Regions from separate parts of the Homo sapiens genome. Here region 1 is reported to be linked to region 2. The links are microRNA targets in miRTarBase. Many come from high-throughput screens and were not tested one by one. Region 2 holds a microRNA gene; the other region holds the end of a gene's coding sequence.

Region 1 (4,184 bases), not on the chromosome of region 2:
CACCTCAAAGCCTCCCATTTTCAGCAGATTGATTTTCCTAAAACTTAGCCCTGGTTACATCAAAATATTGATCACAATTTAACAGTGATTCTTTAGCTGCTAATTTAAGTGTAGGTCTCACCTTGGCATTGAAAGCCTATGGCATTCCTTCTGTCTCCCTTTCTAGCCGTACCTGCTTTAACGCTGTATCAGCAATTCATTCCAGGCTGACTGCACACTATGCTGTTGCATACAAAGAGCTTGCAATTTCCCTGCCTCTTTTTTTTTCCAAACTGTTTTTCATTGCATAGAACACTTTGTCTCCCATCCTCATGAATCACAATCCTACCTATCTGCAGCATTTCTAGCATTCTCAAATATTGCTAGTAGAAGTGCAGATTTCTTGGAGGACAACTTGACAATATTTATTGGCAATGTTGAACCTTACCTGAGCCCCGTGTTTTTGGAAAGGAACTTTAAAAATCCTCCTTCCCTTTTGTTCTGGGAAATGGCTTGCTGCAAACAATCATGCTTTCTCTTATGACTTAAAACTTTCTTGTTTACATAGAACATGACCAGGCACAGACCCTCTAAATTCCCACTTTTTTTGTCTTATAAATAGCTGAAGTGTTCGTTGAACTGTTCGATCTGGGCAAAATGCAAACTAACTTGACTTGACCAAAGTTTAGTAAGGCTTTTCCCCTTTGCCCAGGTACCTAAACTTTGGCCCACTTTGGGCACTGGAACATGGAGCCATGTTAAAGTTAGAGGCCCCTCCTTCAGGGAACTGGCTGAACTCAGGAAAAAGTGTTCCCTAGTCAATGTCCCATCATACCTGTCACCCATCCCATCCCCTGCACCCAGTTCTTGTTTACTTCTCTCCATAAAAGAAAGCCTATTTGTGTTTGTCCTCTGAGCTACAGATCTCATAGATCTCAGAGCCTTTTCCCTATTGTCGTAGTCACCTTCCCCTTATGGCAATAATCCTTTTGAATAAAGTCCCTCCTTACATAAGTTTAAGCTATTTTTTTTTTTTAAATGTGACATTATTAACAGCTTTTAAAATGTCTAGGCTTTTTTACCAAATAATCTCACTTCTGGAAATTTAATCAAAGGAAATAATTATATGCACACATAGTTTATTTTTTTAAAAAGAGAATGCTCATGACATATTATTTGTAATAAAAAAAAAATAATATTTTCCAAAACAGGAAAGTTAAATAAATTATGCAGTCATTAAAATTATGTTTTCAAATTGTCCTTAGTAGCATTTGAGAGTGTTCTTAATATGTTTAGTCCAACCCATTAGAGCAAGATACAAAAATATATAAAAAGCTAATTTCAAATTATTTTATTACTATATTTAAAAATAAAAGCCATAAATACATGCAGGAAAAGACTGAAATAAACACTTTAAAATAGTAATATTATTTAATATTTGATGGGATGATTAATTTTATACTAAATATTTTGGGGAATTTTATAAATTTTCTATAGTGAGTTTTTTAAATAAAAATATATATATTTAAATATAACACTTCAAACATACCAAAGCAAGAAATTGTCTCTGGCCATCAGATATTATCTTTTCCACAAGCTTTTCTTATGCTCTCAGCTAGATACTGTTTCTCTCTCCTGTGAATTCCTAGCCCTTTGCCTTCTATGGCTGTAAAAACATTCTACTTTATGTTTTGTTATCCATGTACTTATTCCCTTTAGCCTATTGTCCTCTACTAGGTTGAAAAATTAGGGAAGGTAAGAATTGTACTTTAAATGCCATAGGAGTGCCTGGAATAGCACAGTATCTTGCATAAAGTAAATGTTTATGAATTCCAGCCACATCATTTGGAGTTTACATTTGCATATTCCATCCTCTGAATTATTTTTTTACATTTTAATTTTGACTTCAGCTTTTATTCATGATACAATCAATAAAATTCCTTCAATATAATCTCTTTGTTGTCCAAGGGTCAAATATAATGTTTTCTACACTGGAAAATTACCAAGGCTGATCATTATGTGAAACAGTTCTACACCATATTACATCCCTGAAGCAAGCAGAAACTCAAGTGCTTCGTTTGCAGAGTTGTTTTAAGATTTAGAATTTGCGGCTGGGTGCGGGGGCTCACGCCTGTAATCCCAGCACTTTGGAAGACCGAGGCAGGCAGATCACCTGAGGTCAGGAGTTCCAGACCGGCCTGGTCAACATGGTGAAACCCCATCTCTATTAGAAACATTAAAAATTAGCTGGTCCTGGTGGTGGGCGCCTGTAGTCCCAGCTACTCAGGAGGCTGAGGTAGGAGAGTCACTTGAACCCAGGAGGCGGAGGCTGCGGTGAGCTGAGATCATGCCACTGCACTCCAGCCTGGGCAGCAGCGTGAAACTGTCTCAAAAAAAAAAAAGATTTAGAATTTGCAAGTTTGTTTATTAGATGGTACATGTAAATTTCCTATGACACCTACCTACTGTTTCCTTTTTAGCATCTCAGTTTTGGGACACTTGTGAAATCAGTCTTCCAAGTATATTTCTGGTCATGGGTAAATTGTGAAGGCATTGGAAATTATCTGCACCTTTTCCCATCTCTGTTGTGAATCAATTTCCCACACACCTGGGACTTGTTGCCTACAACCAAACCTTGTGTGTCACTAAGGTGAAAACTTAGAATTTAAGCATGAACATTACAAAGACTTAAGGTATGTGATAAAAAACCTCTTTCCTTACAGGTATTCAGATTTTATTTGTGAGCCCTCTAAACATCAATGTCTTAAAGGGTTGACATTATAACAATGGAATAACTGAAAAGCGAAGTTTTCTGAAGTCATATGACCCTGCTGTGTGCCCAAGTCACCTATTCACATGGCTGTTCACATCATCTGCATGAAAATATTTTCACTTTCTGTTAACCATAGTGATTTACAATTCTATGACTATTAAAGTTTATTAAACACAAGTTTAGAAAGTATCTTTAACAAAGGTGTGTTTATTTCCATATATTGCTCATTACATTTTTCTTGCCACAGTTTTATCTAAAGCCAGGTCAAAATCTTTCTCTAAGGTATTTATTAATAGTGTATGTTCTTCAGATATAAAATCCCTCTGGTCAACATGCAACATTTGAATATCTATTGGCACTGTACCTCTATGAGATATTTATGACATTTGTTAATAGTGAACCTCAACCTCCTGACCCCACATCCGAAGTTGGGGGCGATGTGGGGGAACATACACAAAATTACAACCACATTACTGGTCAAGCACTTTATAGCTAAAATCTATTGACTTTAAAATAGCATTGTATGTGAATTCAGAGTTTTAATGTATTTTGTGGATCAAAAGGAAAGGGTCAAAGGCTAAGCTGAACACGGAGGGCACTAAATTAGCTAATAAGGCAGCTAGTGCCCCTGTTCTTGCCCCAGCCCTGTCATATCACTACATCCGATTCTCTCAAATGTTATAAAGAATAATGAACTTAAAACTTCAGGGGTTCCTGAAAACTGGTATTAAATTAAAAGCAGAGTAGTCAAAATTCTTTGCAAATGACTTCTGTGATAGAAAAAAATATTTCCAACCTGCGTCAGAGGAGAATTATCTTTTAGGTGCCAAGGAAAGAGTGATAAAGATGCTGAGTATATTAGTCAAGGTCATCTGAGAAGACTATTTTGTGGTTGATTCTTCTGAGCCCCTGAATTGTCCAACATTATTGGTGTACCTGTAGCGTGAACAACATTGCAACCAATAATTTTTTGAATACAGCAATGTAAAACCCTCAACTTTAATGTTCCTCAGATCGTAACAAATCAGCTCAGCTACAAGTCTTCCCCAAAGTGGAGCTATTCTAGTCATATATTTACTTAGTTTCAAAGAGCAGGAATCCTGCAAAGGTGGAGAAGCGTTGGTGGTCCCCATGGAGAGCGCCATTGCCCATTCGCAGCCAAACCTCATCCCCTTTGGCTAGCTTCAGCACAGCATGATTGCTGGATGTATCTGATTTGCCCTTCATTTCATAGCTGGAAAGAAAAAGAGGAACAAACTACTTAGTTTTTGCCATGAACAACCAGCTCTTCACCAAAGTCTGTGCTCCCCTTCTCTCCTTCCCACAGGTATAATCCTGCGGCTAAGTTCTCTAAACAGCCTGTGAGCAGAAATGACCTATGTACCACTTCTAAAGCTGGCTAGTAACACTCTCACAAAACCCCTCCCTGCTC
Region 2 (4,451 bases):
ATGCCTTTCTAGCACAGGTATTAAAACTTTAGGACAATTTATTAAAGAAATAGAAAATATGATCTCTGTGTTAGTTTCCTGTGATTGCTATAAGAAGTTACCACAAGTCTGGTAGTTTATAACAACAAAAATGTATTCTCTTGCAATCCTGGAGGCCAGGAGACAGAAATCAAGGTGTGGAGGAGGCAGAGCCATGCTCCCTCTGAGGCTCGGGGGAGGAGCCTTCCTGGCCTCTTCCAGCTTCCCACAGCTGGCATCATTCCTGAGCTGGGCCATGTCTCTCCAATGCCTGCTCTCTGTTTACAGGGCCTTGTCCCCTGTGCAGGTCTGGGTCAAAACTCCCTCTGCTTCTCTTTTATAGGATACATGGTATTTAGGGCCCTGGATGACCCAGGACATGCTCCTCCTCTCAAGGTCCCTCACTCGATCACATCTTTTGCAATACAGGTGATATTCACAGGTTCCAGATTAGACATGGGTGTATCTGTGGGAGTCATGATCAGCCTACCATAACTTCCAAGCAATTGGGAAGAAGAAAAAGAATACAGAAAATTGAGTATTTCTAATAGAAGTTAGGAAAGGAGAGAGAAAATGGAAGTCCAGAAGCCAGGACAAAAAAATAAGTGGTGGAAATAAATTTTCCTAGATCCAGAGAAAACAGTAACCATGAATGTACTGAACAGAGACTGTCAGATTGGACACAAAAGCAAAGTCTTGTGTCAGACGTTGCTTACAGAGGTCACAGTGAAGTATAGAAAGGTAGAAGGCAAGAGGGTGTGGAAAGCCGTGGAGTGTAAATACGGATGGGATGAAAGTTGGTGTGGCCGGGCCAATCCCCAACTTAGACTTAAAGACACAGAGAATCCCTGGGAATGGAGACAGCGACTCCCAGATGATGAAGCAGCAGAGAGATCCTCCAAGGGTGAGTGACCTAGAGCACTTTACCAGCTTTGTAAAGGAAAAGGCATTTGCCTGGAGGCTGCAGGGCCCAGTCCAGCCTAGCTCCAGGACAGCTCCAACCCATCCTCCCATGGGTGGGGTGTCCCTGGTCCAGGCTAGGGACGGTCCAGGGTGGGTTGGCAGGACCTGCTGTGATCGTGAAGTTGGGAACTGCCTAAACCATCTTCTCAGAGCCTGTGTGTCCAGAGGGAAAACCCAAGCACGTGGAATATGGTTTACAAGCCGTGGTTGCTGAGGACAAGGTTGGTAATGAAGGCGCAGGGAAGCCTGGGAGGGCAGAAATGCACAAGGAGGGGTGGGGCTGGAGCCCGGCTGGTCCTGGTATCCTGGGCTTGGGGGGACCCTGCTCCTTTCCCTGGGAGCCCTGAGGCCTCAACTGGATGACAGGAGGTGGATATGCTGGTCCCTGAGGCACAGGCAGTATGAACCTCTGCATGGAGCTGGGTCTCAGCAGAAGCCCACCCAAGCCTGGAGTTTCCCAGCCAGGGATGCACCTTTTTCATCCCAGCAGCCTCTGTCCCTCAGTCCTGAGCCCTCAGGGGCCCTCAGGGCATGAAAGCAGGAATCCCAAATCCACCTTCCAGAATTACACGGGCTGTTCTTGGTGGTCAGGTGGCCTCTCGGGGCCAGGGTCCTTTTTAAGACTGGAACCTCTCCAAGCTCACCAGCACTCTCAGTGCACGCACGCACGCACACACACACACACACACACACCAGGATTTTAAACTCAGTCCAACAAATCTCAGCATGCACCAGAACTATTTCAGCATTTTAAGAGCCTGTATTGATTTTGGAAGGAGCCAGGCAGCGTGTGAAGGCCATTCTGTCTGGGATCCTATGCTGAGTCTGGGGTCTCTGTATGAGGGATTATCCATGTGTGGGGAGCCTTCCCCCTTCAGAGCTTTCCAGCTTCCCTCTGATCACATGTCCTGAGCACACTATCCCAAACCTAACCCCAGCTGGGCTCTAGCAAGAGACGAGGTCCTGTCTTGCTGGGAAAGGGTCATCCTTCCCACCCGGAGGCCCCTGCTCTGCCCCAGTTTCCTGCCACAAAGCCCAGACAGTCCTGGGAACCTGGGCTGGTGAGTCCCTCCATCACCTTCAGAAACAGCCATGAGGAGCTGGCAGTGGGATGGCCTGGGGGTAGGAGCGTGGCTTCTGGAGCTAGACCACATGGGTTCAGATCCCAGCGGTGCCTCTAACTGGCCACAGGACCTTGGGCAGTCAGCTGACCCTGCCCAGTCCCAGCATCCTCATCTGGTCTTAGCTAACAGGGACACACCTGAGGAGGTGGTCTTCATGTCACTTCCACTGGGACCAGTTTTCAGAGCAGCTGCAGGGGTCATCAGTTAAGGCAGTACAGCCCACTTACAGAGGAGGCGGGTGGCTTGGGGTGTGAAGGACGTGCCCAGGTGACATGCTGCTGAGTGGCCCCAACCCCATCCAGGCACCAAGCCAGAGCCTGTCCCCAGGGACCCCAGGGCACATCAGCAGAAGCTGGAGGATGTGGGTCTCCTGGGCCTGGAATCTCAGAGCCCACATTGGTTAATTTCACACGTCCGCTTGACTGGCACACAGGGGGCCTGGATGTTTGGCCAGACATTATGCTGGGTGTGTGTCAGGGGGGCTCTGGGTGAGATGAACACTTGAATCCATGGACTGCAAAGCAGACAGCCTCCCAGTGTGGGTAGACCCATCCAACCTGTCGCAGACCTAAGCTGAACACAAAGGCCAAGTAGGAGATAATTCATTCTGCCTGGCTGCCTTAAGCTGGGAGCTTGGTCTTTTCCAGGCTTCAGACCTGAACCGAAGTACAGGCTCTTCATGCATGTCAAGCCCCTGGCCTTCAGACTGGGACAAACTCCATCAGCTCTCCTGGGGCTCCAGCTGGCCAGCAGCAGATCTGGGGACTTCTCAGACTCCACTATCTCATGAAGCAATTCCTTGCCATCCATCTCCTTTAATAAACACACACGCATCCTATCACTTCTGTTTCTCGGGAAAACCTTAACTAATGCAGAGCCCGAGAGTGGGGCATGGCTCAGGGCTGCTGCACCCAGGAAGCATCTGTGCTCCCTGTGCTTCCAGGCAGGGACCCTCATGGAGGGGTGGGATGGTCGTACTTCCTCAGCCAGCACTTAGGGGCCGTGAGGTCCATAGCCATGAGCTGAGGGAGTGACCCCACAGTTTATGTCACTGTGGAGAAAGGCTCCCTGAGCTGTGGATCCAGCCAGTGGGTTGTAAACCTGACTAAGACACTCAAGCTGCTGCGGCCGGGGGCATGCCACAAACCCCCAGTGAGCCTCAGTTTCCCCCTGTAGAACAGGGGTGTGAGAGCAGTCTCCTCAGGGTGTAAAGAGCCCAGCAAATGCCGGGCACAGCTCATACCAGATAAGCATTAGCTGGTGGCAGAAAAGCTGGAAGACAGACTGCTGACCTCCACAAAAGGATCAGATTTGTGCCAGTCCTGGCCATGGACAACAGGTCCCAGGCTTGACCTGTAGGTGAAGAGCCCAGAGCCCAGGACCACATGCCAAGTGGGAGGCTCCTGGCCCAGAACACCACACCTGCCTAGCAGATGTGTCTCCTGGAAGTGGGAAAGCAGGACTCTCCAGGGAGCCCTGGGGATACAGAGGATGCAGCCCGCGAGGCCCTGGCCTTGAAGCCTTAGTGTCTCTGCAGGCCCCACCTGTGATTGGCCCCTCCAGGGTCACCCAGGAGGGTAAGATGCCCAGGGCCTGCATCTGTGCTGTGGGACACAGCCTGGCTTCTGAGGCCCATGGAAACCTTTCTCGGGAGCTTCTCAGGACCCCAGCCAGGACATCTGTGCCTGTCCGTGACAGCTGCCCTAGAACTGGCCACAGGCCTATGGCTGCCTTGCACTGTCAGCCCCCAACGCCCGTCGTGTCATCAGCATGTCTCAGATGCCTTCAAGGGCTGCCCACTCCATGATCCTTGTCCACAGCCCCAGCATGTCCCCTAGCGTCAGAAGTGTCCCCGGATCCTGCAAGCCAACCACATAGGACGTCCACCTCTGAGCCCCTCTGTTCTCCTACCCTCCTGCTGATCACAGCCCTGCTGCCTGGCCTCATGGTCCAGTGCATCTTTCTCCCTGGAGCTGCCACAGTGCACCACCTGCCTGGCTATGCATTGGTGACCCCTAGGAGCTCCAGGGGGACCTTCACACAGGCCCAGGACAACTGGGGAGTCCTGCCTGCCCTCCTTTGAGTCCAGAAGCCCTGAGCCAGGCTCTCTTCAGAGGGGTGGAGGTCAGCAGGCACCAAGGCCTGCAGTCCCCAATTCTCCTCTCCCAGCTGATCTCTCTTGCCACACCCTGTGCTGGCCCATGCCCGTGAGTCCGCCTGGCCACCCAGACGGGAGCTGATGTCTCCAGGAGACATACGGGACTTGCCATAGCCCAGGCCAGGGCAGTCCCTGGGAGACACAGGGCCTGGGAGGCTGCTTCACCTGCGGGGCTCCTGGGCAGGTGC

Evidence for each region. Region 2 holds the annotated microRNA hsa-miR-5100 (UUCAGAUCCCAGCGGUGCCUCU, at 2,139-2,160, shown strand). A microRNA usually pairs through its seed, bases 2 to 8, with sites in the 3' UTR of a target mRNA and lowers its output. Matches are read on the target gene's strand: a 7mer-m8 pairs with bases 2 to 8, a 7mer-A1 pairs with bases 2 to 7 and ends in A, and an 8mer does both.
Region 1: miRTarBase lists C1QTNF3 as a target of hsa-miR-5100. Seed matches in the 3' UTR shown: 7mer-m8 at 3,762-3,768, 7mer-A1 at 3,058-3,064 and 7mer-A1 at 2,706-2,712.

What each region holds. Positions count from the first base shown.
Region 1 is chr5:34,016,757-34,020,940 of GRCh38, forward strand. C1QTNF3 (C1q and TNF related 3) reads right to left here. Exons shown (of 6, transcript NM_181435.6): 6 at 1,102-3,986. The coding sequence ends at 3,827. C1QTNF3-AMACR (C1QTNF3-AMACR readthrough (NMD candidate)) reads right to left here. Exons shown (of 9, transcript NR_037951.1): 6 at 3,831-3,986. Among named protein-coding and RNA genes, the nearest start is that of AMACR, 11 kb to the left of the region's middle.
Region 2 is chr10:42,995,492-42,999,942 of GRCh38, forward strand. MIR5100 (microRNA 5100) reads left to right here and starts at 2,072; the gene lies at 2,072-2,190. RefSeq lists an enhancer at 1,939-2,439.